Linked DNA regions of Homo sapiens. The protein of the gene in region 7 purifies or fractionates together with the protein of the main gene of each other region. This does not show direct contact. Each region holds a gene or a part of one and is shown on either strand. Other genes may lie near its edges.

The links.
Region 1: the proteins of MAP2K1 (region 7) and MXRA7 purify together in Homo sapiens (affinity purification with mass spectrometry; one large-scale study listed by BioGRID and IntAct). This does not show direct contact.
Region 2: the proteins of MAP2K1 (region 7) and VARS1 purify together in Homo sapiens (affinity purification with mass spectrometry; one large-scale study listed by BioGRID and IntAct). This does not show direct contact.
Region 3: the proteins of MAP2K1 (region 7) and CAMSAP3 purify together in Homo sapiens (affinity purification with mass spectrometry; one large-scale study listed by BioGRID and IntAct). This does not show direct contact.
Region 4: the proteins of MAP2K1 (region 7) and NDUFA10 purify together in Homo sapiens (affinity purification with mass spectrometry; one large-scale study listed by BioGRID and IntAct). This does not show direct contact.
Region 5: the proteins of MAP2K1 (region 7) and DDX18 purify together in Homo sapiens (affinity purification with mass spectrometry; one large-scale study listed by BioGRID and IntAct). This does not show direct contact.
Region 6: the proteins of MAP2K1 (region 7) and KRR1 purify together in Homo sapiens (affinity purification with mass spectrometry; one large-scale study listed by BioGRID and IntAct). This does not show direct contact.

Annotation. Positions count from the first base shown.
Region 1 is NC_000017.11:76,689,987-76,694,313, reverse strand, and holds part of MXRA7 (matrix-remodeling-associated protein 7), read left to right. Parts: intron 1-4,327.
Region 2 is NC_000006.12:31,788,426-31,792,752, forward strand, and holds part of VARS1 (valine--tRNA ligase), read right to left. Parts: intron 4,092-4,327; coding exon 3,967-4,091; intron 3,880-3,966; coding exon of another isoform or gene 3,877-3,879; coding exon 3,792-3,876; intron 3,547-3,791; coding exon 3,446-3,546; intron 3,313-3,445; coding exon 3,185-3,312; intron 1-3,184. UniProt on the Homo sapiens protein: Catalyzes the attachment of valine to tRNA(Val).
Region 3 is NC_000019.10:7,612,438-7,616,235, reverse strand, and holds part of CAMSAP3 (calmodulin-regulated spectrin-associated protein 3), read right to left. Parts: coding exon 3,073-3,798; intron 1,054-3,072; coding exon 914-1,053; intron 819-913; coding exon 517-818; intron 1-516. UniProt on the Homo sapiens protein: Key microtubule-organizing protein that specifically binds the minus-end of non-centrosomal microtubules and regulates their dynamics and organization.
Region 4 is NC_000002.12:240,018,324-240,022,650, forward strand, and holds part of NDUFA10 (NADH dehydrogenase [ubiquinone] 1 alpha subcomplex subunit 10, mitochondrial isoform 1 precursor), read right to left. Parts: intron 4,018-4,327; coding exon 3,849-4,017; intron 3,090-3,848; coding exon 2,874-3,089; intron 317-2,873; coding exon 230-316; intron 1-229. UniProt on the Homo sapiens protein: Accessory subunit of the mitochondrial membrane respiratory chain NADH dehydrogenase (Complex I), that is believed not to be involved in catalysis. Complex I functions in the transfer of electrons from NADH to the respiratory chain.
Region 5 is NC_000002.12:117,816,864-117,821,190, reverse strand, and holds part of DDX18 (ATP-dependent RNA helicase DDX18), read right to left. Parts: intron 3,748-4,327; coding exon 3,463-3,747; intron 1,543-3,462; coding exon 1,399-1,542; intron 31-1,398; coding exon 1-30. UniProt on the Homo sapiens protein: ATP-dependent RNA helicase that plays a role in the regulation of R-loop homeostasis in both endogenous R-loop-prone regions and at sites of DNA damage.
Region 6 is NC_000012.12:75,493,896-75,498,222, forward strand, and holds part of KRR1 (KRR1 small subunit processome component homolog), read right to left. Parts: 3' UTR 1,768-4,327; coding exon of another isoform or gene 1,682-1,767; 3' UTR 1-1,681. Other genes in the region: GLIPR1 (glioma pathogenesis-related protein 1 precursor), read left to right, coding at 1,682-1,767. UniProt on the Homo sapiens protein: Part of the small subunit (SSU) processome, first precursor of the small eukaryotic ribosomal subunit.
Region 7 is NC_000015.10:66,435,412-66,438,911, reverse strand, and holds part of MAP2K1 (dual specificity mitogen-activated protein kinase kinase 1), read right to left. Parts: intron 2,167-3,500; coding exon 2,020-2,166; intron 1-2,019. UniProt on the Homo sapiens protein: Dual specificity protein kinase which acts as an essential component of the MAP kinase signal transduction pathway.

The DNA.
Region 1 (4,327 bases), on a different chromosome or scaffold from region 7:
TGGCGGACACCGTGGTCCAGGGGCTGTGGGAGTTGGAATGGAGCGGTTCTCAGGCAGGGAAAGGCAGGGTGGAATGGCCTCAGGACAAGCACATGGTAGGGGAGGGGGCTCTCCAACGAGTCTCTCCACCCGGGCCCACTCTAGGCAGCTCACTGCTCTGGTCCCAGAGGGTCCTTGTCCCCCAAGCAGAAATTGGGCTCCTGGGCCTATGCCCCCGCCCATCCAGATAAGTAGATGGAAGGGGGAGGGTTTGACCGCCCCAACTGGGGCCACGGGATTCAAGGGACAACTTCCAAAAGAACAGGGGATTTCTGCACAGACAACAAAATAAATGGCCAATTGAGCAGTGTTTTCAAGCTTTTTTTAATTAGGTGTCACAATAAGAAAGAAATTTTAAATTACATCCTGTATATAAAGTCACACAGCTACACCAGAAGTTTTTTGTTGTGTTGTTGTTTTGTTTTCTTTTGTTTGAGACAGGCTTTCACTCTTTCACCTAGGCTGGAGTGTAGTGGTGTGATCTCGGCTCACTGCAGCCTTGACCTCCTGGGCTCAAGTGATCCTCCCACCTCAGCCTCAGCTGGGACTACAGGCACATCCCACCATGCCCAGCTAATTTTTGTAATTTTTTTGTAGAAATGAGGTTTGACATGTTGCCCAGGGCGGTCTCAAACTCCTGGGCTCAAGCAGTCCACTTGCCTCAGCCTCCCAAAGTGCTGGGATTACAGGCGTGAGCCACCTCACCTGGCCCCAGAAGTTTTATAAACCAGTATCTAACTCTACCACACACAAAACACTGTTTGTCTTTAATTTCTTTTTCTTTTTTTTTTTTTTTTTTGAGACAGATCTCAAAAAAAAATCCAGTCTGTTGCCCAGGCTGGATTGCAGTGGCGTGATCTCAGCTCATTGCAACTTCCGCCTCCCAGGGTCCAACGATTCTCCTGCCTCAGCCTCCCAAGTAGCTGAAGCAGTCGTGCACCACCACACCCAACTAATTTTTGTATTTTTAGTAGAGACGGGATTTCCCCATGTTGGCCAGACTGGTCTCGAACTAATGACCTCGTGATCCATCCGCCTCGGCCTCCCAAAGTGCTGGGATTACAGGCATGAGCCACCGCGCCCAGCCTTGTCTTTTATTTCATTCTGGGATACAGGGGTGTCCCCAGAGTCTTAGTGCAGTTTTAATAAATAACTTCAGATGTTTAAATGTACAAACCTACAAAACATCAGTTGAATATTTACTTATTTAAATTTCTTTTCCACTTAGTTTCCTGACAGTCAAGTGCTAGATTTTTTCATTTTAATTCTCCGCATGTGCTAGTGTCTGGAGGGACAGGCAGGCAAAGGACCCCTTTCCTGGGCTGAATTGACCTCCCTTGAGGTCACGTGTGCACAAAATCCAGTTCTTTGGAACCTGGTGAAGCTGGAATCACCAGTGCAATCTTTTCCCGTCACTGACCAACAGTCGATAAAAGGTTTTTCGAAGTTTGAACAACTAGAGCCATGTATAGCACTAGAGGGGGTACTGTAAGAATCTGAGTGAGAGATATCAAGGTATTTTAAATGTAAATAACCTTTCAAATGTCATTTTTTGGTACATTTGTAGTATCTATACTTCTGAAGTTATTAAAGCCTCAAACTTCACCAAGACTTTGGTCGCCCATTTTTTTTTTTTTTTAACAATACTAGTAAGGCCTTCTCATTTGCTTTCCTGACCCATCAATGGGTCATGACCACAGCTTTTTAAAAATCAGACTTCCAGGCCGGGCGCGGTGGCCCACACCTGTAATCCCAGCAGTTTGGGAGGCCGAGACGGGCGGATCACCTGAGGTCGGGAGTTCGAGACCAGCCTGACCAACATGGAGAAACCCCATCTCTACTAAAAATACAAAATTAGCCAGGTGTGGTGGCACATGCCCATAGTCCCAGCTACTCGGGAGGCTGAGGCAGGAGAGTCGCTTGAACCTGGGAGGTGGAGGCTGCAGTGAGGCAAGATCGTACCATTGCACTCCAACCTGGGCAACAAGAGTGAAACTGTCTCAAAAAAAAAAAAAGAAAAAATCAGACTTCCAAAGTCAAGTACAATTTTTTTTTTCTTTTGGTGACAGGGTCTTACTCTTGCCCAGGCTGGAATGCAGTGGCACCCCCATGGCTTACTACAGCCTCAACCTCTTGGGCTCAAGCGACGCACCTGCCTCGGCCTCCCAATGTGCTGTGATTACAGGTGTGAGCCACTGTGCCTGGCCCAGAATCTAAATGTGTACCAGCCTCTCTGTGCTCAGGAGGGCTTGGGCACGTCAGCTGATACTGGGTCCTTTGGGGATACGGATCTGCCCTGGCTCATGGACTCCTCGCCCTGGAGTGCAATTATTTGTTTGTCTTTCCTACTGGACCACGAGCTCCGTAAGGCAGGGACTGTGCTCATTGTTGCTGTTGTTTTTCATTTAATCTTTGTGTCCTTTGCACATAATAGGAGAACTGGCCTCCTGTCTATTCTTGATATTGGGCTTAGTTCCGGGGCCGTGCCCTGAATAGGTCAGTGACTGTTTGCCTGTCATTAAAGAGAGACATCAACCATGAGAAAAACCAACTGTTTTTCTGTCCATGCACACAACACTCCACAGAACCCTTCACTTCTGATACCAAATATGCAGCCAGCCCCACCCCTGCAACCAACACCTTCTCCAGCCACCCAGACACCAAGTGGGTGTCCTCCCGTTCAACTCTGACATTAACTGCCTGGAATCAGTGCAGACCCCACAGGTTAGGGCCCAGTCCCACAGACTGCCCCCTACTTCAGGGGCCAATCACAAGTATCAGGTCCCCTCGTTCCCCACACTTTGGTCCTACTTGCCTACAAATCAAGGGTTCCATGAACCCCTCCTCAAGTTGAGTAATTTGCTACAGCGTCTTACGGAGCTCAGGGAAGCACTTATGTTAACTGGTTTATTAGAAAGGAAGTGATAAAGGCTACAGATGAACAGCCAGATGGAGGTACCTAAGTAGAGTAAGGTCCAGTAGGGTCCTGAATGCAGGAGCTTCCGTCCCCATGGAGTTGGGGTACGCTACCCCCTGCGCACGGGAATGCATTCAGCAGCCTGGAAGCTCTCCAAACCCTATCGGGATGTTGACGGAGGCCTCATCACATAGGCGTCATCGATTCTTAACTCAATCTCCAGCTCCTCTCCAGTCTCTGGAGGAAGCTGGGGGGTGGTGGGGCTGAAAGTTCCAAGCTCCTCATTGCAGCTTGATCTCTCTGGTGATCAGCCCACCCAGGAGTTACCTCATTAGAACAAAAGACACTCCTGTCACCCGGGAAATTCCAACGGACTTAGGAGCTCTGTGCCAGGGACTGGGATCAAAACCAAATGTTAGAACAAAACATGCTGCTAGCACCCCTGTAACTTAGGAAATTCAAGGGACTTAGGAGCTCAGTGTCAGGGCTGGGCATGGTGGCATGCACCTGTGATCCCAGCTATTCCAGAGGCTGAGGCAGGAGGATCGCTTGAGCCCTGGAGGTCAAGACTGCAGTGAGCCGTGATTGCACCACTGCACTCCAGTCTGGGCAACAGAGCAAGATCCTGTCTCAAAAAACAAACAAAATAAAAACTGTGTCAAGAACTGGGGGCCGAAACCAAATATATATATATTTAGGATGTTACATTCTTTCTACTTTTTTTTTTCCAAGTGATCCTTCTGCCTCAGCCTTCTAAGTAGGTGGGATCACAGGTGCGTGCCACCATGCACAGCTAATTTTTAAATTTTCAGTAGAGGCGAGGTGTGCACTATGTTGCCAGGCTGGTCTTGAACTTCTGGGCTCAAGCAGCCCTCCCACCTCAGCCTCCCAAAGTGCTGAGATTGCAGGCATGAGCCACCACACCTGGCCTCTTACTTTTTTTTTCTTTTTTAGAATATATAAGAAAATAAATAAAGAAAAAATGGGGTCTTTGGATCTGACTGTCCAAAGACACCATTAGCATTTAAAAAATATATTTAGTCATTCATGCATATTAATGGAAAGTCCAAATTATACTGAACTCTATAAGACGGAAAGGAAAAGCTGCCCCCCAAGCTCCTTTCCCAAGAGGTAGCCACTGCTGACAGTTTCTCGTGGGCCCTTCCAAAAAACAAACCTTTTCTCTGCATTTTCGAGCACATGCGTGCATTTCCACTTTGCCATTTACAGCAAGATGACTGCGCTGCTCACGTGGGGCTGCTGCTTGCATTTTTCCCTCGATTTATCTTGATGTACTTTTCATGTCAGCACCTATCAACGCCTCCTTTTTTTTTTTTTTTCTTTTTTTAAGATGCAGTCTTGCTGTGTCAC
Region 2 (4,327 bases), on a different chromosome or scaffold from region 7:
GGAGGCAGAGGTTGCAGTAAGCGCGCATCACTGCACTCCAGCCTGGGAAACCGAGAGAGACTCTGTCTCAAAAAAACAAAAAAAACAAAAAAAAAAACAGGCCAGGCGCGGTGGGTCACGCCTGTAATCCCAGCACTTTGGGAGGCCGAGGTGAGCAGATCATGAGGTCAAGAGATCGAGACCATCCTGGCCGACAGGGTGAAACCCTGTCTCTACTAAAAAAAATACAAAAAATTAGCCAGGCGTGGTGGCGGGCGCCTGTAGTCCCAGCTACTCAGGAGGCTGAGGCAGGAGTATGCTGTGAACCTGGGAAGCAGAGCTTGCAGTGAGCCAAGATTGCGCCACCGCACTCCAGCCTGGGCGACAGAGAGAGACTCTGTCTCAAAATAATAATAATAATAATAAAAATAAAAAAATAAAACATATAACTGTTTTCCTAGCTCTCAGTTACTTGCAAAATGCACAATCAAACATTATATTCCCAGTGCTCAGAGCAGAGGTGGCACATAGTTGGGCCCAGTAAATATTTTTTGACCACATTAATTTAGTACATAAGACACCAGAAAAAATTCTCAAAATTTAAATATAATAAACCCTGGTTTCCAAAAATGGTAAAGTTATTTTAAAATACTTTTTAAAAAGATTTGTCACCTAGAATATTACTTTGTATTTATCACTAATTAAAATATTAACAGTGAAAACAAATAGTAACAGAAAACAGGAGAAACATTTACAATTAACAGGAAAACTACCACACAATAATACAACAAAAACATTTACAATATTTAACAAAAAAATTGATACCCAGAACAGGTAAAGAATTCTCAAAAAAAAAATTAAAAAGAAAAAGAACGAAGAATCAATAGAAAAACGGGGAAAAGATAGATACAGACAATTCACATATGGGTAAACCTGACTGGCCAAAAAACATGAAAATAGGCACAACTTCAATAGCAATCAGAAAGGTACAAAGTAAAACAACAGAGGTATTTTTTTGCCCATCAGATTGGCAAAACTAATTAGGCAACCCTAATGCTCAGGCTTAGCAAGGGTGGGGAAATGAACACTCTCACAGCAATTCCTGGAGGTATCAATCAGCAAAGCCATTCTGCAGGGCAACTTGGCAGCTTCCGTTTGTACTTAATATAGGTGTGCCCCTGCCGACCTAGCAGTTTCACTTCTTGATAGCTACACCAGCGAAACCCTTCCACACATGCTTCAGCAAGCATATAGAGCAGGGGTATCCAATCTTTTGGCTTCCCTGGGCCACATGGAAGAATTGTCTTGGGCCACAGATAAAATACACTAACACTGGCTGGGAGCAGTGGCTCACGCCTGTAATCCCAGCACTTTGGGAGTCCGAGGCGGGCGGATCACGAGGTCAGGAGATCGAGACCATCCTGGCTAACATGGTGAAACCCCGTCTCTACTAAAAATACAAAAAAAAAATTAGCCGGGCGTGGTGGTGGGCACCTGTAGTCCTAGCTACTTGGGAGGCTGAGGCAGGAGAATGGCGTTAACGTGGGAGGCGGAGTTTGGAGCTTGCAGTGAGCCGAGACTGTGCCACTGCACTCCAGCCTGGGTGACAGTGCAAGACCCGTCTCAAAAAATAAATAAATAAATAAATAATAAAAATAAATTTAAAAAAATACACTAACACTAACGATAGCTGATGAGCTAAAAAAAAAAAATCGCAAAAAAATTCTTAAATGTTTAAACAAAGTTTACAAATTTGTGTTAGGCTGCATTCAAAGCCGTCCTGGGCCGCATGTGGCCCACAGGCTGCAGGTTGGACAAACTTGATATACAGGGATGTGCATTAGAGTAAGGTTTTCAACAGAAAAAAAACAAAAAACAAAAAACAGAATGAATCATTAATTAAAAAGTGACTCCAGGCCGGGAGCAGTGGCTCACGCCTGTAATCCCAGCACTTTGGGAGGCCGAGGCAGGCAGATCACCTGAGGTCAGGAGTTTGAGACCAGCCTGGCCAACATGGTGAAACCCCATCTCTACTAAAAATACAAAAATTAGCCAGGCGCGGTGGCAGGTGCCTGTAATGCCAGCTACTTGGGAGGCTGAGGCAAGAGAATCGCTTGAACCTAGGAGGTGGAGGTTGCGGTGAGCCGAGATCATGCCACTGTACTCCAGCCTGAGCAAAAAGAGTGAAACTCTGTCTCAAAAAAAAAAAAAAAAAAAAAAAAAAAAAGAATGACTTCACTATGGTACAGCCACACTATGAGATATTATGGAACAATTAAAAAGAAGGAAGTCAGTATGTGTGGTATGTGTGTAAGGACAAGGAAAGATCTCCAAGAGAAAGTATTAAGTGTAAGAAGAAAGCTAGATCATAACAAGTGTAATATGAACCCTTTATGTTAAAAAATAGAAAAGACTCACCCAAAAGGAGAACTATAAATTTCTATGGGTACGTGTATATGTAAGTAAATAGGAAAGATCTGGGAAGATACACATCAAAGTGATAACAATGGCTAAATCTTAGGAGGAAGTAGGTGTGGAGGGGGATGGTCAAGGAGATTTGAAACTTTAAATTTCTTACAAGAATATATTCATATATTTTGGTCAGTTGTGGTGGCGCATTCCTGTAATCCCAGCTACTTGGGAGGCTGAGGCAGGAGAATCACTTGAACCCAGGAGGCAGCGGTTGCCATGAGCCGAGATGGCGTCACTGCACTCCGGCCTGGGCAACAGAACAAGACTCTGTCCCCCCAAAAAAAAATATATATATTCATATGTTCCTAATTAAATTCAAAATAATGTTATTGTTACTAGAAAAAGAAGGGAGAGACTGGGTGTGGTGCCTCACACCTATAATCCCAGCACTCTGGGAGTCTGAGACAGGAGAATCACTTGAGCCAGGAGTTGGAGACCAGACTGAGCAACAAAGTGAAAACTCATCTTTACAAAAAATTAAATTAAATTAAATTAAAATTAAATAAAGAAAGAAGGGATAGAAGAGAGTCTGCAAGTGGCGGTGTTGCATGGGAGTACTGGACTAGGAGAGGAAGCTAAATGATCAGATTGGAATGACAGAGAGAAGTGTAGCACCACTGGGGGCAGAAGTGAGCACCAACCCAGAAGGAGAGAGGCTCGGGGGGCTGTCAGGGAAAAGGAGAGAGCCAGACTAGGCAGAGGGAACCAGAGGAAGGTGCAGATAGAAGCTCACCATCGAGTCAGGGAGTCCTGGATGGCGTTGGTGAGTGCATGGCCCAGGTGCAGGGAGCCTGTCACATTGGGGGGTGGGATGCACATCATGAAGACACCTCGGGGATTTGCTGCTGACACATTAGGACGCTGATGGTGGAGAAGGATGGCACATGTTTAAGGCCTCAGGTCACCTCTCCCAGCCCCTCCCAGGCAACACATCCTTCAGTCCTGCCCTTCCCCACCCCACCCACTCTGGGCCTGGGCAGCAGTGCCTACTCACCCCATACTCTGGCTTGAAGAAGCCCTGCTGCTCCCACCAAGGGTACCAGGCAGCCTCCACATACCGAGGGCTGTAGGAGTCGGGCATGGGGCCACTGACATCTGGGGGAGAGGAAGGGAGGGCTCAGTGCCGTGGCTGGGAGCACTCTGGGAAGGAGACGTGCTGGCAGAGAGGGATCGGGATCTCCGTCACTCACATCATAGGACAGGCATTTGAGGGGCCTAGAGGCAGGGCAGGGGGTCTGCAATTCCTCACCAAACAAAGTGGTGAGAGCAAGAATAGAGCAAGATAGGGTGAAAACTTAGAAGGGGCTGCTGAGGGGTGAGCCCCTTCCCACTCCTAGTACCTTTCTTTTCCCCGGGTGGGGTTGGGAGGTCATAGGTAATGACCCCAGGATCCCGTTTCTCCCTCTTCTCTGGTTTTGGTTTCTTCTGCTTGGGAGGGAGAAGACATAGGCCCAGGCATCAGCCAACCCATCACCGCACACATCAACTTTCCTTCCAGCTCCACCCTCGCCTCACCTCCCCTGGAGGTGGCTGCTGCTGTTGGATCTTCTGCTTCTGTTGGAATTTCTCTAGCTTCTCCCGTTTCTTTGCCTCTTTCTTGAGCTGAGCAGCTGTCTTTGGGAGGGCAGGAGCCTCGGGGCCTAGAGAGAGGTGCAGAAATTCAGACTCAGCCAGCTGGGGACCCTCTTGGACGGCCATACTAGGTTTCAGATGGGGTATTTTAGATGCCCGAGGTCTTGCCCATGCTGACCTCCCCCCTCTCCCTCCTCTCCCGCAGGACCCTGCCCCAGTGATTCTGCCATTTCTAGGAAAAAAAGAAAGTGAGTTGCATGGAAGGCCCCAGGGAAGCCCCTATCCTCCAACTCCTCGCCCTTCC
Region 3 (3,798 bases), on a different chromosome or scaffold from region 7:
ACCCCACATCCCTATGGAAGTCTTTTTTTTTTTTTTTTGTCTTATTTCTGAGACGGAGTCTCGCTCTGTTGCCCAGGCTGGAGTACAGTGGTGCAATCTTGGCTCACCGCAACCTCCACCTCCCAGGCTCAAGCGATTCTCCTGCCTCAGTCTCCCAAGTAGCTGGGACTACAGGCATGCCATATGCCCGGCTAATTTTTGTATTTTTAATAGAGATGGGCTTTCACCATGTTGGCCAGGCTGGTCTCAAACTCCTGACCTCAGGTGATCCGCCCGCCTCAGCCTCCCAAAGTGCTGGGATTACAGGCGTGAGCCACCGCGCCCGGCCCCCTATGGAAGTCTTTACCCAAGAGACAGTGTCCAACCCCACCTGAGGCCCCCTGTCACCCCACATACCCGCCCCCTCCCGGCACCCCTGCTTACATCTCCCTCCCCCTCCCCCCTTACCCATGGGGGCCTCACCCAGTGAGCCCCGGAAAGGGCACTGGGCAGGCCCCGTCCCCCAAGGGTCCTCACCCAGCAGGCCGCGGGCTGGGCTTCGTGCCAGGGCTGAGTCGTCACAGCAACCCGAGCGAGGCCGGGTGGCCCTCCGCCCGCCCCGACCTGGACCCCCGGACCCCGCAGCCCGGGGCCGCAGCACCTTATCGAGGTCGTCCATCAGCTTCAGCTGGGCCCGGCGCTCGTACTCCTGCCGCGTGAAGTCCCCCTTCCGGGGGCCCACCTCCTCCTCGGCTGGAGCCCGGGCAGCAGGGGCTGGAGTCGCCATCGGGACTGCGGACACAAGCGGGGCTGGGCCCGGGGCCTCCTCTTGGGCCAGCCTGCAGATCACAGGGAATCGGCATCAGAACCGCTCACGGGGTCCGCGGTGGCAGACAGGCCAAGGAGCGGGCGTCCCGGGCAGGCCCGGCCTCACCTCGCGGCCTCCTCCCTCCGCTGTTCCTTCTCCACCTCCTGCCACTGCTTGCGCCGCCGCGCCTCCTCTGCTCGCCGCTGCTGCCGCTCCAGCAGGCTGGCCCGCTTTTGGGCCATCTCGTCCTCAGGCTTGTCTTCATCCTGGGGACAGACGCCGAGTCCAGCCAGCCACCCCCTCCCCCAACATGGCTGGAGGCCCATCTTCCCTCCACCCAGCCTGCCCGCCACCCACCTGTGCTTTTGTTTTCATCATTGTTCTAAATGCACTTAGTTGGTGCCTACTGTATGCACAGCCCCACACTAAGTACTGGGACACAACAGGGATGGGATACACTGGGTGCCGCTCACACACACACTGCTTAACCCAACGGGGAAGACAAAAGCAGCAGACAGCAGTGAGTGCCAGCAAAAGCTCGTGTTGGGCACAGACACTCTACACTGCGGGAGGACCCCGGCCTGGCCTGGAGACACCCAGGAAGGCTTCCCAGAGGAAGTACCCTGTAGAATGATCAGGATTTAACTAGGTGGGCGTACAGAGCAGAGCGTTCCAGGCAGAGGGGACAGCTAGTGCCGAGGCCCTGAGGCTGGAGCAAACCTACTGGGGGGCACGGAAGTACAAGGGGGCCAGTGTGGCTGGGACACAGAGCTGAGGACAGTGGCGCAGGACTAAGTCAGAAGTGAGTACAGGCCAGACGCGGTGGCTCACACCTGTAATCCCAGCAGTTTGGGAGGCCAAGGCAGGTGGATCACTTGAGGTCAGGGGTTCGAGACCAGCCTGGAGAAACCCTGTCTCTACTAAAAATGCAAAAATCAGCTGGGCGTGGTGGCATGCTCTTGTAGTCCCAGCTACTCAGGAGGGTGAGACAAGAGAATCACTTAAACCCAGGAGGTGGAGGTTGCAGTGAACCGAGATCATGCCACTGCACTCCAGCCTGGGCCACAGAGCGAGACTCTGTCTCAAAAAACAAAAAACAAAAGAAAACAAAACAAAAAAAAAAAATGAAAAGGAAGTCCTCCCCAGGGCTTTGGGCTGTGCTCACTTTTTTTTTTTTTTTTTTTTTTTTGAGATGGAGTCTCGCTCTGTTGCCCAGGCTGGAGTGCAGTGGCACGATCTAGGCCCACTGCAAGCTCCACCTCCTGGGTTCACGCCATTCTCCTGCCTCAGCCTCCTGAGTAGCTGGGACTACATGCGCCCGCCACCACGCCAGCTAATTTTTTGTATTTTTAGTAGAGACGGAGTTTCACCATGTTAGCCAGGATGGTCTCGATCTCCTGACCTCATGATCCGCCTGCCTTGGCCTCCCAAAGTGCTGGGATTACAGGCATGAGCCACTGCGCCCGGCCACCCTGGGGAGGACTTTCATTCTAAAAGCAAGGGTAAGGGGAGCAGTCAAAATCCCCGACCACTCAGTGCAAAATGGCCCGGGATGGAGGCAGGCAGCAGAGGCCAGTCAGGTAACCCTAGGTGTCCCCGGCTGGGAAAGCCATGGGAATGGAGAGACAGTGGACACAGGGCAGGGCCAGGAAAGGGGTGGTAGGAGCGTGCTGGGGGCGAGGGGGTGAAGGAGAGGATGAGCAAGGAGGTGCGCTGAAGATCCTGGTCCTGTCCGTCTATCTGTCCATCACCCACCCACCCATGCAACCAGCCATTCATCCATCTGTCTATCCATGACTCCTCCCTGTTTCTCCACCCCTCCCCACATCTATCTATCCCCCTTGTCCGGCCACCCATACCTTGTTTGGGAGGGACATGACTGGGTCAGCCCCCACTGGAAACCCCTCACCCCCAAACATACCCGAGGGCCTCACTCATTAAGCCACAGGGGGAGGACCTCTCACCCCACTGCACCCCCACAGCCCCTTGTGGAAGTCCTTACCCAACAGACAGGGTCAAATCCCATCTGAGGCCCCTGTCACCCCACATACCTGCCCCCCACCGTGCAAATGTCCCTTTCCCCCCTCTCCCACCCATGGAGGCCTTACCCAGCCACTCACACCTGTTCTGTCCATTCATACCTGGCTCCCCATCTATCCCCCACCCGCCCACCCATCCTTCAGTAAAGCCCTATTCATCCAATAGTGGGTTTGTCCACCTCCCCCCGCCCCCACCCGCCCCCGCCCCAGGCCCAGGACCCTCCAGCCACCTGCTCGGGGACTCACCTTGTAGAAGAACCCCAGCCCCACCCGGGGCTCCCCCTCCGAAGACGCCTCCTCCTCCAAGGAATCCTCAGCACCAGCGGGGCTCCCGTCTCCCTCGTCCTCGGCGGCGGGATCTGCCAGGCTGCCCAGCGGGATCTCGATGAGGCCCGGCCGGGCGGCTGGCTCCTCGGGGGGCGTCTCCTCCGCCAGGAGGATGGAAGAGCGCGTCTGCACGGGCACCTGGCTCGGCGAGAACTTGCGCAGGTGGGGGAGGCTGTCTACGTCGTGGGGTGGCGTAAGCACCCTGGTCAAGGGTGCCAGCCGCAGCTCCGCTGGCCGCGTGTGTTTCGGGCTGCGGGGTGACTGGCTGGGCCCGGGCCCAGGGCTGCGCCGGGTGGCCGGGACTCGCCGGGCGGGGCTGGGGGATGCAGCTTTGGGCCCCGTCGTGGGGCCAGGGATGACCCACGCAGCAGGTGGTGGGGCGGATCCGGGGGCCTCGGGCGGGGCCAGGAGCCGCTGCTGCTGGTCCGTGAGCCTCTGCATGTCCCGCTGCAGCGAGCTCAAGGCGGCACTCAGCTTGCTGACCGCTCGATTGTATTCCCCCAGCCCCTCGTGGGGCACCGGGCCCAGGTCTGGCGAGAAGGTCACTGCCTTGGGCCGTGAGGTTGGCTCACCCTGGCCCTCGCCTGCGGGCCGCTCCCCACCAGGGACTGGACCGGAATCGGCCTCCTCCGCCTCTGCTTCCGC
Region 4 (4,327 bases), on a different chromosome or scaffold from region 7:
ATCTGCTTTCACAGGGAGACATGACAGCACAAAAGACACCTATTTCAGGAGGGAGAAAGGGTGGAAGATACTTAGGAAGTTCCTTTTTCCAGCGGAGACCGATTAAGTAATGGCATTTATTCATCTATCTAACAGACATTCATAAACACAGTAAGTGCAAGGTGAGTCTATCACAGCCCTTGCAAAGTCGCACCACACACCCAGAAGTGGGTCTGCAATGCTGACTCACACTGCTTTCGGATGAATCCCTGGTTGTACATCGCCTCCAGGAACACAAAGTCACTGAAGATGGAGCGCTCCAACACAACACCTTGTCCTGTTTAAACATAGGCAAACAGAAATTGAAAATCAGACAGATAGCAAAGCACTGTCAACTGATCACTGCATTCCAGAGAAAAGAAAATAACAATCATTTACAATTCCATTTCCACACCAAAATACTGAAAAGAACATAGACATATTTGTAAGTGGGAAACCATTTTCAAAAACTGAAGTATCTTTTCAGTTTTGAGCAATATAACATCGTTTCATTAAGTCAGCTATAACAGAAAGCATCCGGTTAATACAAAAAGTGCTTGTTTTTAAATAACGTATTCCACCCCTACAGTGCCCACCCCCATCCTGCTCCTGCCCCCACCATTCCAGTCAGATCTACTGATGTTGGGCTACTTCTCAACCTCACCTCTGTCCACTCCCAGCCTCACTGGCTGTGTTACTATCACAGCAGCCCCGACGGACACTTGTGCAGCTCAGAGCACTAGTCCCCAGGGTCCCCAGCCAGCCTCCTTGCAGTCAGCCCTGCTGTGTCTGGGCAGAGGCCTCCCCTAATCTTCCTACCCAGCCTCTCCCCACAGCCTCCTTCCTCAGAGCAGCCACCACTCACTTGGGGCAAGACATTCCTGTTTCCACATCGAGTCTTCATCCCTCTACTAAAACACAGGCTTCCCTCCCTGTGGCGCCCTTAGCTCCCAGAATGGGTCTGGCACACAGCAGACATGCACTAAATATTTAATGAATACGTTAACCCAGTTCCAATTTGCCCCAAGAATACTGAGATGGGAGCAAGCTGCACTTTTTTTTTCTAAATGGGAAATAGGTTACTATAGCACCAAAAAAAGCAAGGCTTTATTTAACAAGTAAAATGTTTCTTTTTCATTTTAAGAAATGAGTAGTCAGAAGACAGGGTTGAAGAATGCTTTAAAAAGAACGTGGAGGCCGGGCGCGGTGGCTCACGCCTGTAATCCCAGCACTTTGGGAGGCCGAGGCGGGCGGATCACGAGGTCAGGAGATCGAGACCATCCCGGCTAAAACGGTGAAACCCCGTCTCTACTAAAAATACAAAAAAATTAGCCGGGCGTAGTGGCGGGCGCCTGTAGTCCCAGCTACTTGGGAGGCTGAGGCAGGAGAATGGCATGAACCCGGGAGGCGGAGCTTGCAGTGAGCCGAGATCCCGCCACTGCACTCCAGCCTGGGCGACAGAGCGAGACTCCGTCTCAAAAAAAAAAAAAAAAAAAAAAAAAAAAAAAGAACGTGGAGTAAGCCTGGATGTCAGTGTGAAGTCCACGCTACGACATCAGCTCCTGGATTGGCTCCTGGTAAAGAACCTCAAACCAGAAACAGCAGACCACATTGTTTTCTTAGGAGTAACACTAACCAAGATCAGGGTTTACGTTCATATAAGAAAAAAAGAAGCACTAATAAAATGTTTTCAACTTTTTCAAAGCAAGACAATAACTCCACCACCGTACAACTGTGTAGATACGTGTCATGGACACACACTGCATCCGTGGAGACCTGAAGGAGCATAGGCAGCGGCTCCTAGCTCAGCTCTGAGAAGAAGCCTGTGAGCCGGCCACTCCCAGTGAAAACCACATTCTTGTTCTCACGGCTCAGACCCCATGAAGCCAACCCTAGTGGCGGCTGAGCTTGTGCGTGAGAAGCTCATCAGGGGCACTGCCAATCAACGAAAGCAGCAAGCACTGCAATATAAAACAGACACGAAGGCCCTAAGAGTCCACCCATCTCCCTCTCTCCGCACACAGATGTGCCATTTGCTGCTACCTGTGAACTGAGGACCGCCGTGGCATGGTAGCTTTGACCAAAAATTGGCAGTGCATCTGCGGTCCAACTCTCAGGATGTCTAGCATGCACTGCTGTTTCCCAGAATGATTACAGTAACCCGTCGCTGGACCCTAACCTCATTCTGCACACAAGTAGTCCATGTTCATGCCCTTTCATCCACCTTCCCTTCCTCTCCTAACTATACTTTCTGATCCCTGTTTCCGTCTCCCAGGCTCCCCAGTACACAGCTCTTCCTTTCTGCTTTGGATACCTTCAAGGGAAGCATCCTCCCCTACTGCACTGGCCTATGGGACCCTGTGTGTTCTGCCTCCCCCCGTCATCTTATCAAGATTCACGTCTGCCTCGTGGCTTTATGGTGATTCCGGCCTATCTCTGGGCCCTCCGGGACAACCCTATGTTGTTGGCATCCACATCTCTGTCTGCATGGCACATGCACAGTCTTCATAAGTGTGATCCCGTTTCCTCCTGGACACTTCTGTGCTCTCTTTACCCCTTTGTTTTGACACATTTCATATATAAATGAATATGTAAGTATAGAAGCTTAAAGTAGTGCCTTGAGAATTCTATACAATCCATAAATCTCACTCCAGTATCCATAGTGAAACAGCATTAAATTAATTCTGAAGCAAAAATAACACAATCTCAAGAAATTCATGATCTTGTTGGAAAGACAGAACTCACCTCATCAAACACCCTTAAAGGAAAGCTCGACTCAGTGGCAATTTAACGTGGTTGAATTCTAGAATAGTGTTCAAGTACAGAACAGATCTAACTGCCCAGAAATACTGCACCTGTGGTCAGCAAGTGCTCCAAGGCATCTGAGTACTGCAGCAGGCGACTGCTGTACAACCAGGACTGCAGGCGGTAACTGTTGCCATCATTGCTTCTCGGATCATCGTAAAATTTCTCCAAACTACAGTTGCCATTATAGTCGGTGGCGAGGGGCTTCCCATCTCCTGTGGTACTGTCTGGATAATGAATCCCCGCTTCAGGAAAGTGCTTGAAGCCTGAAAAGAGAAACAGTCGGATGCAGTCTGATGCACATCACTCACTCCCCGCAGGGAGCAGTGGGGACTAGCCAAAACACACAGCCCGCCCGAATCTCACCGCCAGGGATGGAGCCAATGACCTAGAGAAAGTCACCTACATGCCTGGGTTTCATCACGTATGAAGGGAACACACAACATATACAAGCAAGCATGTGAGCGAAAGAGCTTGCACAGTGCCCTTATCCAGGTTCCTCCTGAAAGGACTGCTCCCTGTAACCACAGGAGCCCCCTCTAGCGGGCAGCTGCTGTCATGCAGGTGCTACAGAAAGGTACAATGGACACTCAGCTGCACCAGGAGTCAGGAAGGGGCTCTAACCTTGGCTTTGGGACCCAGCTATGTGGCATCTGCTCACTCAGGAGTACACCCATCTGTGAGTGAGTACCATCCTCGGCTCTATTTCAGAGGCTGTCACAAAGTTCAAACACGACAGTTTATGTGGAAGTGCCCTGCTTACACTGCCCACATAAAATTCCAATTCAAATTGACAACCAGCATGGATTTTCACAAATTTTCCAAACATAAAAGATTAAAAACAGCTTTTTCTTGTTTCGTTTTATAAAACAGCTTTTTCAATAAACAAAAATGTGAAATACCCACCTTAGGCCCAATTATTAAATATTTAATATTATTTAATATTAATATTGAAGAAAAACCAGTGAAATAAGCAACCATATATCTGAGAAAAAGGTATCATTCTGTGTAACATAAAATCATACCTAGTTTCTCTGCTATTTCTTTTGCAAGTTTGCCTTTTCCAGTACATATATTGCCATCTACAGTTATCACTCTGCTGCGTTCTGTCAGTCTTTTGCTTGCTTTATCCCCAAGTAGGAAATGCCACATTCCATAGCGCAGTTTGCACTGCACACTGCTATGAATTCCTCTCTGAAAAACACAAAATCACACAGCAGCACATTGTGACCACTCTGGTTCCTGTAGGCATTAGTAACTATTAGGTAAAAATACCAAGAAACCTCTTAGTGATAAAAATGCCAACATCTACATCTTTATTGCCTATTAATTTGTTTAATTATCTGTCTATCCCCCACCACTCTGTCCATGTAAGTTTCGTTAAAGGCAGATATACTGTCTGTTTGTTCACTGCTAAATCCTCAGGCCCTGGAACAATGCCTGAAATTTTTATTAAATATGTTTACTATGTTCAATAAAAATTGGAGGGAGGGAGGGAGGGGTG
Region 5 (4,327 bases), on a different chromosome or scaffold from region 7:
GAGAAGCAAACGAAGTATCCTCAAAAGCTCCTAAACAGAAGACAATTTATCATTAGCAAATTTATCTTTTTTTTTAAAAAAGTATTGCTACAGTTGCCTAAATCTATTTTGCTTAGAAAAGCTTCCCGCAGTAAGAAAAGGCTAAACCTTAATTATTCATATGTGATAATATCAAGAAAAAGACCCTATATCTTTCAAGTTTCTCCACTGTTAACGGCTGTGTGAGTTATAGTCCAGAGACCATACTATAACAAAACAAGGGGTAGAGAGGAGGTATAACCAAGGAATTTATATAAAATAAAAATACCAAAACAAGGAAAATAATGAGAGTCCAGAGATAAATGAAATGTTTAAGAAATCTGATATAAAAGTGAAAACATTGAGCATTAATAAAAACTGAGTGTGAAGTCAATAATAAAAAAAAAACCTGTTAATCTCACTCCAACAAGACACAGAAGAGTCAGATACAGCCACAGAATGTTAGGCTGAGCCTACGTATCAAGTAATACAGTGGTGGTTCAGCAGAAGGCATCAAAATCACCTGGGGGTTCCCCATACTCCACATGCCCAGGGTGTAAACCAATCACTCTTGACCTTGGCATTGCTGACATCTGGGCTGAATAATTCTTTGCTGTGAAACACTATCCTGTGCCTTATAAGATATTATGCAGTGTTTCTGACCTCTACTCACCAGATCCCAGCAGACTGCTCCTAGCTCTGAGAACCAAAAATGTCTCCTAGGCTTAGGATGACCAATCTTCTCAGTAGGCTAGGGACAGAGGAGATTCTTGGGATTCAGAACTTTCAGTGCTAAAACTGTTAAAGTTCTGGGCAAACCAGGAAGAGTTACTCTTCTTACTCGGGGGGCGAATTTCCCTGCTCGAGAGCTACTACCAAAACGTTTGCAATTTGGATTAAGCAGGTCTAGGGTTGGGCCTCAACATTTTAACAAACCAACCAACCCAAACCAAATAAACAACTCAAGTAACTCCTAGACATATCTGGTTAGGAGCAGTGAATTCTAGCCTAAACTCAACTTTATAAAGGAACAAAGGCCAAAGGAGGTTAACCTCGTACAGGGCCAATCATTTTCCTATTACAACATAGAATGAGACTCAGAAAAGGACAAACCAAGGAATCCTAGAAGCTGCTAGTGTGCATATAAAATATTTGGTGTCAGGAATGAACAAAAGGAAAAAAACAGGGAACAAAAAGAACTAAAACACCACAAAATAGAAGATAAAGAGAAAAAGCAGCAGAAAGATATAAAAAAAGTTTCTTGTTGATAGTTACTTTTTTCAGGTAAACTGAAAGTCACAACTGAACCTTCAAACCTATAATCCTCTAAGAGAGGCACATTTTAAAGAAGTTACCTCTAGAAAACTTCCTGGACGTTACCTGTCAGTCCCAGGGGCAGACTGGGCACCTCACTCTCATCTTCATCATTATCTGGCTTCTCCACATTATTTTCTGTTTCTTTAGTAGTCTCGGCACTTTCTTCTTCAGATTTCCCTTTGTTTTCAGTTTTTGCTTTTTTCGTATCTTTGGTTTTAAAAGACAAAATCCGAAAAAATTTTTCCTTAAAATAGAATTCCAAATGAGATCAACAAACAGAAGATCTCTGATATAAAGACGTATATTTTCAAAAGCTAAGTATATGCTGTATTAATTTGTTAAGAATTCTGTTTGGTGAAAAATGAGTGGTTGTATTTAAAAACCCAGGGTACAGACAGACTTGGTGACAAAACCTTTTAGGCTTTTGTTCAACTAAACAGTATAAACATACCAATTATAAGTTTCACATACTCCACTGAGGGGAAAGGAAGCATACCTGATTAACATAATCCTTAAAAACTCATTATAAGTAGTCATTTTTCTTCCCACGCCAATCACTATCAAAGGCTCTTCATGTTACTAGAGATAGACTGTAAAGGAAGGGCAACAACCCACTTGCCTGGCTGACATACACTGGACTGTGCCTTGGCTATCAGGGATGAGGGTGGGAGGAAAGGCAGGGCTTCTTCCCACCCTCATTTCTACATTCACAACTTTCATGTGGCCCCAACTACCTTTTCAGTCCTACCTCTCACTTCTCTTTTCAATGTTCGACTCTGGGTCAAATGGATTAACCACATGCTGTGTTTATATAAAACTATATGGCAATTAGTGATGTTTGAAAAGAACTTAGACCACAACCCAGGACTCTCTGTAGCTCAGTACTGGTCTCCTCCCTGTACCTGACGGCCACCCTTCCAGGAAAGAGTCAACTTTGTAGGACCTACATGTTCAAAAGCCACAGATATCTTCAGCTGGTCTCCATGGCTTATTTTGTTTTCCCTGGAATAGTTCCTAAAATGTACCCATAAGGTGGTTGGGTGTGGTGGCTTCTGCCTGTAATCCCAGCACTTTGGGAAGCCGAGGTGGGAGGATCACTTGAGCCCAGGAGTTCAAGACCAGCTTGGACAACACAGTGAGACCCCATCTCATAATAAAACAAACAAACAAACAAACAAACAAAAAACCCATAAGGTTAAAACGCCCAGCATTGTGATTCAATGCTTGGGAGCAGAAATAATACCACTTCCTGGGGCATACTCAAAACAAGAATTGTGAAGGCAATAATTTTAGAACAGGATTACAATGACTTCTGTGTGTAGGCATCATGAAGACAGTAATGCATGTTTGGAAAAGTTCAAAGTCCCTTTCTAAATAAAACCCTTATTTCAGGTAAAATACATGAATAGGATGTTCCAACTCAGGGGCTGGCAAACTTTCCGCAAAGGGCCAGATAGTAAATAGTTTAGGCTTTGCAGGTCATATGATCTCTGTTGCCATAAACACAACCAAATAGGCATTGCTATGACCCAGTAAAACTTTATTTACAAAAACAGGTAGAAGGAGGGATAGTTTGCTGACCCCTATCTTATCCTACCTTGATATCTCTGCTTATACAAATCTCAATTATAATGTCCATTCTTTCATCCGAGCTTACTGAAATTCCATCATCTTCAAAAAACATTCCTTCCTTTTCCTCCTGCCATTCTTAGCACTTGGAAATTAATGTTCCATTTATTCAGAAGTTTCCTACTTTATATACTTTGTAACTAATATTCCTTTCAAAGGGAGGAATTTATGGAAGGAAAATGGGAAGAATCAAGCAGGAAAAAAGGTAACTTAAAAAGAAGAGAAAATTTCTAGAATTCTAAGGAGAGTCTTTTCTGAGAGAGGTTTTCTTCAAGGTTAGTGAAATTAAAAATATATTCCTCAATATTTTGAGAAAAGTTGAAATGGACTCCCCGCTTCTGCCAATAAAATGTTTCCATTAGCTACCAGGCTAATCTCTAACATACTGGTGAGTACAGGGAATTCTCATGTCATGTGCACACAATAGTAATAGAAAGAGGAACAATAACCGTCTGTGAAAAACTAAATGGCTGAAGTTCAAAGATAATAAATACCTACCAGGCTCAGCATCATTCACCATTTTTCTCTTTTTCTTCTTTTTCTTTTTTGATTCTGAATTGGAAGACTGCATTGCTGCTTCTCCATTGGTTAATACAGTGGATTTCTGGGGAGACTTTGTAACTTTTATATTTCCCACTGCTTCTTGAGACATGCCTCCATTTTGAGTTTCTGATAAGCCCACATTCATGGGCTTTTGTTTTGATTTTTTAACCTTTCTACTTCCCATTGTTTCTTCAGATACATCTCCATTTTGAGTTTCCGATAGGGTCAGATTTGAGGCCCCTGTTTAAATAAACAGAACATATACTGTGACAAAGAAGGAGAAGTTTACTTAGAAACACTGAAATCCCAAATGAGAACTTCCATGGCTTCCTGACACAAATTATTTAGATTTTCTTCTCTTTCATGTAATTAAAACAACTTATAGTTTTATGGTGTTCCCTTATAGGGAAAGTAAGTTATCTTAAAGAAAAAATACTGGAAAAGGGAAAGCTATATTGATTTCTTAACTGCAAAAGACCGTACATCTGACTTTAAGGAGTCTAGGACAGGAAAACTTCAATGAGGTCAAATATTTAAACAGATGAGGTCAGATAATGGCAGTTACAGAATAAACATAAGTATTTGATAAACATATGATTAACTGATATATTGAAAAAGACATTTACAACTCATTCACACAAGTACTATTTTTCATACCACTTCAAAACATTCAACCCCAACTCTTCTAGACTGCAGTGAGTTGAAAATTCAGTTGATAAGACCACTTATTTGCTCCAATATTTATCATATGCAAATACAGTAATGCGTGCACAATGACATTTCTGTGAATTAAGGACAACATATACAGTGGCTCCATAAG
Region 6 (4,327 bases), on a different chromosome or scaffold from region 7:
CCTTTTCCTTTACAGTTTGGAATGCACAACTAAGTATCATAAATGACTTTATTAAAATCATTCTAGAACTTAAACCACTTAATACTGTGCTTATTAACAATGAAAGACATTCCAATGATTAATGTCTATTTTGGACATCTTTTGAAATTGCTATCAGAATTTCTACTATATTACCTTTTTTCCATGGTGTAGAGTAAGCAGAGGGCTAATTAAATTTCTGAAGCAACTTAAAATTTGGAGCAAAATGAGATAAGAACATAGATTTGGGGTTGGAAATAAGGTATCGTTATAAAGTTGTGTGTCTAAGGTGAGAGTTCTCAACTTTGGAGGTAATTGTAGAGTGCTGGGGAGAGGAGGACCATAAACTTTGATTAGAAAATAGTTTTATTTTTATTTTCACTAACCTCTATTAAAAATAACATTTCCTTTCATTATGAATGAAGACAACACTCCACCATCATATTAGCAATAAACGTGACTCTGACTTAGCAGTATCATCTTTGTAAATATCAGATATTTTCATACCACATTCCACTTGCTGCAGAGAACTCAAAATATAGTTTGTGTTCATCACTGCATTGAAACTAATAGCCCCCGGTAGATCTTAATAGAGAAGCACATATTACTTTATCACAAATCTTGTTTTAAACATTTTGATAACTATTTCAATTTAATTGGTTTCCTTTATAATCCTATGTATTTTATGCATTTAACAACAAACTATGTTGAGAAAGAGCCCATAGGCCTCACCAGACTGCCAAAGGGTACGATTACACAAAAAAGTTTAGAACTTTTTCCAAAAGCAGAGTTCCAAAAAAAATTAGTGCAATGGCAGGTTCATTGAGATAAATGTGCCCCCTCTCCCCATTACTACTATGAGGATATTTATGGGGATATAAAATGCTTGGATATTATTTCACTTTCTAGTCTGTGACCTTGGTCAATTACTTATACTCTGTGACTCAGCCTCTAGCTATATAATGGGTATAAATAGACAACAGTAACTTCCTCATAGGGTTTTTGTGAAGATTATTTCATTCAAGGTTGTTTAGAACAAAGACAAGCACATGGTAGTGCTCACTAATTAGCAGCTATTATTCATATCACATCTTGTATGTGAAAACAATTTGTACTTTAGAAATTCCCCCATACCATTATTTATTATTTTTTTGGAAGGCACCAGCCAAATGGCTCCTATCCAGTGAAAATTATGGAGGGCTGACCAACTGAGAATATTGAATGTGGGTCACCATAGCTTTTCTAAGATGGACAGTTTTTTAAATGGCAGTAATCATATAGGCCAGAGGGTAGGTAAAGAGAGGGAGCACAGCCCTGGAGTTAAATCCAGGTTTCCTCTGACTCTGAAGTGTATAAATTGTGATTAAAGGTATCTCTTACATCTTTTGTCTCATCTGTAAAACAAGAATAACTTCCTCTCAGAGCTGTCACAATTAAATGGGATGCAGATTAAAACAGGTGCATAGACACAGGTACATAGAATGAACTATGCAAATATTAGCAGCCTTCCATTTCTGCCTTCCTGTCTTCACTTCTATTACCAACTCTCTGGACCTTTGTACTTCACTCCACTATTCTTCTGGATTTAGTTAAGGATTCATAGTAAATTGCAATTTTAAAAAACCGAAAAACTTCTAATGGACATCCTTCTTCTGCTTTACAGAGGGAATTACCCAACTTGGCCATATAAGAGAGGAGCCACCTGCAGTGCCTGCCCCAATAATGACAAGTGTTTGGACAATCTCTGTGGTGAGTAAAAGGAACAATACACCAATAGAATAACATAATAGTAACATGTAACTTTCTACAGAATTAACAATGAAACCATGTTTTATCTTAACGGCTATCTTCAAGGAAACTGGCATCAAGTAGCAATTAAACCAATGGCTTACTGTTCTAGGAATACATTTAAGAGAAATTTAAATGTGAAAATCACGTTCTTTTTATTTAGTTCTAATTGGTCAAACAACAACAACAAAAAAAACTGTCAGAAACTGTAGACTAAGATTCCTAAGATTTGCTTATTTCAGCAAGATCAAAAATAAGTATAACAGGTCATCCAAACAAACAGAATTCTGTTTTCGTTTTTTTTTTTGTTTTTTTTTTTTGAGACAGAGTCTTGCTCTGTCACCCATGCTAGAGTGCAGTGGTGTGATCTCAGCTCACTGCAACCTCCATCTCACGGGTTCAGGCGATCCTCCTGCCTCAGCCTCCCAAGTAGCTGAGATTACCATGCCACCATGCCCAGCCTGGCCAACATGGCAAAAACCCCCTCTACTAAAAATACAAAAACTAGCTGGGTGTGGTGGTGGACGCCCGTAACCCCAGCTACTCAGGAGGCTGAGGCAGGACAATCACTTGAGCCCAGGAGGTGGAGGTTGCAGTGAGCAGAGATTGTACCACTGCACTCCAGCCTGGGTGACACAGTGAGGGTCTATCTCCAAAAAATGAAAATAAAATAAAGCTGCAACATGGCACTTTTTATTAGCCAGACAGCATTTAATGAAGAAGTGTAGAAGCTGCAAGCAGTTAAATTTCCAAGGATGTTTTACTAAACATCCAAGCAAAATTCTGCTTTGTGATTTTGAAATATTAGTAAGTGACCAAGAGTTTATTTCTTGTTCTTGTTCTAGACACAAACCCTTCCATCCCAGTATGTTTTTTTACCATGGTGTGAAGGGGAAACTTCAATTAAGCTGTGCAAAGCCTGTGGTACTTTCGTGTCCATATTTGTAACAAACTGAACTCAGAGCAGCCGGGCTAGAGTAGGGTGCTTAGAATAGAGGAAGGACAGAGTCGGCCAAGTTCCACTGCACGAAATTTAGTTTGGAAAAAAGTGTTCCATTGCTCATGTTTTATAAGGTCCCTTGCAGGCCTAAAATTATAAAATTCTATATATTAAACTGCTTGCTCTCCTCCTTCCCATTTAATGTTGAATACTTATCTTTACATACAGTCGTACTTTTGCAAAGTTTTCTGAGCCATTTTTCTCCCAGTCCAATCATTCTTTATTTCACTTATATCACTCTTGTGAAGAAAAGTAACATGTAGCCACAATGCAGATAATATCAAGGTATCAATGTATTCACTGAATTCTTCCTTTCACTCACTCTTCACTTCAGAACGTATATATTTCTTCCTTCCAAATTAACCAGTATACATAAGGGCTAAAACTATGGATTTCAGAACCAGTATGCCAAGTTTTGGTGCAATTTCCAGTTTGACCACTGTGACTTTGGGCAAGTTTCTGCTTCTATTTTTTTCAACGAAACAACCCAGTGAAAAAAATGTTTCCCTTTAAAAATCTAGGCAATTAGTAACACTACCACCACCACAATGACAAAAATACTTCTGGTTTTAGCTTTTGATCTTTGGTGATCTAACTTGAGATGCTCTTTAATCTTGGGGAATAACATTTAGAAGATTAAAGCTGTAGTCCAATAATGAAAACCCTTGGACTCTTGAGAAAACACATGCTAACTTGTATTTATAAGATGTGAAACTCATTACCCATTTACTTCAGATAAGTGCTCAACATCTTACAGATTGATCTTGTCACTAATTTCCTATTCTCAGAGCTAGATTTATGTAATTTGTTTTCATGTAAGTTTAGGCTTACTTGAAAGTATTCTACTCTTCGCACTAATACTGAATAAGTAAGATTTGTGACTAAAAAACTTAAGAATCACCATTTGACCTTTTATAAGGTCTGATGAAGGTAAAGGTTAGAGGATAAAAGCTTTTATTTAACAGATTCCTTCTCAGACAAATTATGGCAAGCACTGGAGCATAAATTCCTTCGTGGTATTCCTTCGTGGTCTCCTAGATACTGCTGGTAGTTCAATAAATACCCTTGGAGGCCAAATCAGGACTGTTTTACAAAATGTGCTGGGCATATTAGTGGTACATAAGATGATTTTAGCTAGTTCACAGATGTACATTTGTTTCAATAGTTGAATATTGAACATTTAAAAATATATATAAAAAAAAATAACTAGAACATCACACTCTTGATTTCATCGACATAACTGCCAAGAAAAGTGAGGGTAGCATATTTACAGTAATTCACCACAAAGCCCACTCACAGGTATGAAGACCAGGGATGCTCACCAGTACCCAGAGGACCAGATGATTGATGGGTTCTACCACGAGCATCTAATAGCGACTGCTGCAGAACTGGTGTGGAAAAGGTTTCTATTTTATAAAAGAAAGTATCCAGAAGGCTAAAGGCAGTTGTGGAATTTATTTCTTCCCAGTGCTCTGATTGTCAAAATTTGAATAAAGCTCAGTGAAAGGAGGACAGTAATTA
Region 7 (3,500 bases):
ACACCCAGGGCCAAAAGGTCCTATGGCAGGCTCCAAGGCCTAACCCTCCCCCATCGAGTCCCAAGCCTGACCAGGTCTTCCCCATCCTGGCCACTCTCATTCAGTCACTCAACACATACCACCTAACAGGTGCCAGACACTGTGCTTGGCCCTTGAAACATTTTCCCCTCCCAGTCTCATGCTCTCCACGATAACTCCAGAGACTTGTGCAGGAACATCTCACTATTTCCAGAGAGCCAAATCCATGGGGGGAAAAACTGACCTGCAGTCACTGGAAATGGGCTAAGAGAATGGGAAACCAACTCCAGTCATTTCCAGTGTCATTTTCTCCTGAAGGAGGAGGAAGGCTTGAAGGAAGGGGAGGACATGGCAAGGGCACAAGAGATGTGATCAACATCTGTAAGTTCAAAGTGAATAAAGAATTCCAGAATAAGGATGCCACCTAGCATCTCAAAAAAGGTCAATGTAAATGAAGAAGCCTCCTAGTATCTCAAAAGAGGTCAATGTAAGAAAAATAAAAAGATTGGTTGGGCACGGTGGCTCATGCCTGTAATCCCAGCACTTTGGGAGGCCGAGGCGGGCAGATCATGAGGTCAGGAGTTCGAGACCAGCCTGGCCAACATGGTGAAACCCCATCTCTAGTAATGATAGAAAAAAATTAGCGGGGCGTGGTGGTGCGCACCTGTAATCCCAGCTACTCTGGAAGCTGAGGCAGGGGAATCACTTGAACCTGGGAGGTGGAGGTTGCAGTGAGCCGACATCGCGCCACTGCACTCCAGCCTGGGTGACAGGGCGAGACTCTGTCTAAAAAAACAAAAAGAAAAAAAAAGAAAGGGGAAAAAAACCCTTCATCACCCTAAAAAATAAAAATAAATTAAAAAAAAAAAAAAAAGAACACAAGAGACCCAAGGGATAAGAAACAGCTCCCTGAGGGGAAGCCAAGACCCAAGCAGAAAATAATCAGCACCCCAGGCCAAGCACTAGGACCAAGCCAGAAATGTTCATATGCTTCCCACAGAGAATGCTCTGCTCTCATTGAGGAAAGAAGGAACAAGCACTTTCTCTAACCTTTAGATGTGCAGAAGACGTTTTTAGGATTTAGGTTCCATATGGCACCCACAAATGTCAGCAGATGCCTATAACAGTGGATGCAGCACTTCGTGATCATTACAATGAAGAGAGGTTCAAAATAATGGAGGCACAAGTAGAGAATCCTCCCAGGAGGGTTCTTCTAAAGTTCATTAAGGCTGCACACCAGGATCCCTATTCTAAAGGTCAGGGCAGGTCTCAAGTATCAGGAATAAAATGGGGTAGGAGCTGAGAGACACAATACTGGACTGAAAGCACAACAGCCACCAAGTGTGCAGACTCACGTCAGCCCTCATCTCTAAGCCATCAGCCCAGGGAGAATAAAGCAAAGACTAATACTTGCAGAATTCCCTAAGTTGCACAGTGTGTTGGAAGACTTATATCTGAAGAAAAGGAGGGACTCCAAGAACATAGTGGTAAAATGATTGGCAGCTAACATGCATATGATTAATTAGCCCATGAATGCCCTCTCTCTCCATTGCCCTCTCCTTCCACTAACGTGCATCATACAGAAACCCAGAGAAACCCTTCAGGCTGCCCTTACAGTAGATTATGTCATCTTTTTAACTCCAGAGCCTTGCACCTAGCATACAGCATTGTACACAAGAAATGGATTTAAACTGTATTTACCAGATTTTACTTACATCACATCTTAGGGTAATCAGAATCAAAAAAACTATGAGAGGTGCTCTAGGTACACCCACCAGGAATACTGCCCACTTCCTTCAAGAGAGGCAAGGACCTAGAAAGGAGGCCTGCCATCTTGTGAATATCCCAAGCTCTACAGTTAGACTTCCCAGATGCCCCAGATAGTGATGTGGATCCCAGGAGCAGCAGGGAGGTAGCTGGTCACCTCCCAGACCAAAGATTAGGCCAGAGCCACCCAACTCTTAAGGCCATTGCTCCAGAGGCTGAGAGGGTGTCACATACCATGTGCTCCATGCAGATACTGATCTCGCCATCGCTGTAGAACGCACCATAGAAGCCCACGATGTACGGAGAGTTGCACTCATGCAGAACCTGCAGCTCCCTTATGATCTGGTTCCGGATTGCGGGTTTGATCTCCAGATGAATTAGCTGGAGAAAGGTGGAAGAAAGAGAGGTTTTATGAAAGAAAGAGGGAGGAAGGGATGAAAGATATAGTCTTGTTAAATGTTTAAGCTCTTTAAGGTAGAGGGAGGAGAAACAGGTTAAGTTGTTACAAACAAGTTTCTGCTCAACCAAGAAATGAGTGTCATTGTACTAAGGCAGGCATTGGCACTGGAGGCTGTTCCAGCTGTGCCTCGGCTCCTGGGAGCCTAGACAGGAACAAAGTTAAGGGAGGGCTTACTCCAAGAGAGGCTTTGGAGCTCAGATATGAAAAGAAATTGACCTTGAGGACTTGGTTCACACTCAAGAGTTGTGAAAGTAGAAGGGTATGAGGAACTCAGGTATGCTAACCTAGGCTGCCCAAAAGATTCTTCCTTGAGCTCAGGAGCCTGATGTGGTTGAGACTAAGCCAAAGTCTAAGGTGCTACCTTATGTCATCCTAACATTTTCCCTTGTTCCAGCTGGGGAGACAAGTGACAGTCACATTAAATAGTTACGTAGTAAGGTTGAACTTCTAAAAAAATCCCACAGACAGCGAGTGTCAGAGAACATGGATGCAGTGGTTACCAGTGTGGGCTGGGGCACCTGGTAAAAGCTAGACAAGAGGTGGACCTAGAAAATGGGCACTGTTTGAAAAGACAGAAGCAACAGCACACAAAAAAATTATGGGCACAGGAGTGAACACCATGTGCAAAAAAACATTGAAGAGCCCAACCTCTCTGGAGCAAGGGGCTGTATTCCAAAAGAGGACCAAGGGTAGATAGGAAAGGGAAGTCCAGCTCTACAAGTACATGCTATGATAGGAGTTCAGATGCTATAATGCAGGAAGATAAAGGGGATTCACTGGCAGGGCTGGAGCACAAGAGGGAAACAACTTGAAATCCTTGTTTTGTGCATCGCTGGGGCTGGGTGAATGAAAGCAGCTTCTCCAGCACTTGATAAGTAATAAACAGGTATCCTGGCATTCCTTCCACAGCACACAGAAGGCTAAAAAAGAGTCACTTATTATTTTCCAGATGGGATGGGGATTAATACACTAACACAGTCATTAGTGTGTTTATCCATAATCTAATATAGATAACAAGCATTCAAAATTCAAACAGCACGGCTGGGCACAGTGGCTCACACCTGTAATCCCAGCACTTTGTGGGGCTGAGGCGGGCGTATCACCTGAGGTCAGGAGTTCGAGATCAGCTTGACCAACATGGAGAAACCCTGTCTCTACTAAAAATACAAAAAAATTAGCCATGCATGGTGGCGCATGCCTGTAATCCCAGCTACTCAGGAGGCTGAGGCAGGAGAATCGTTTGAACCCAGGAGAT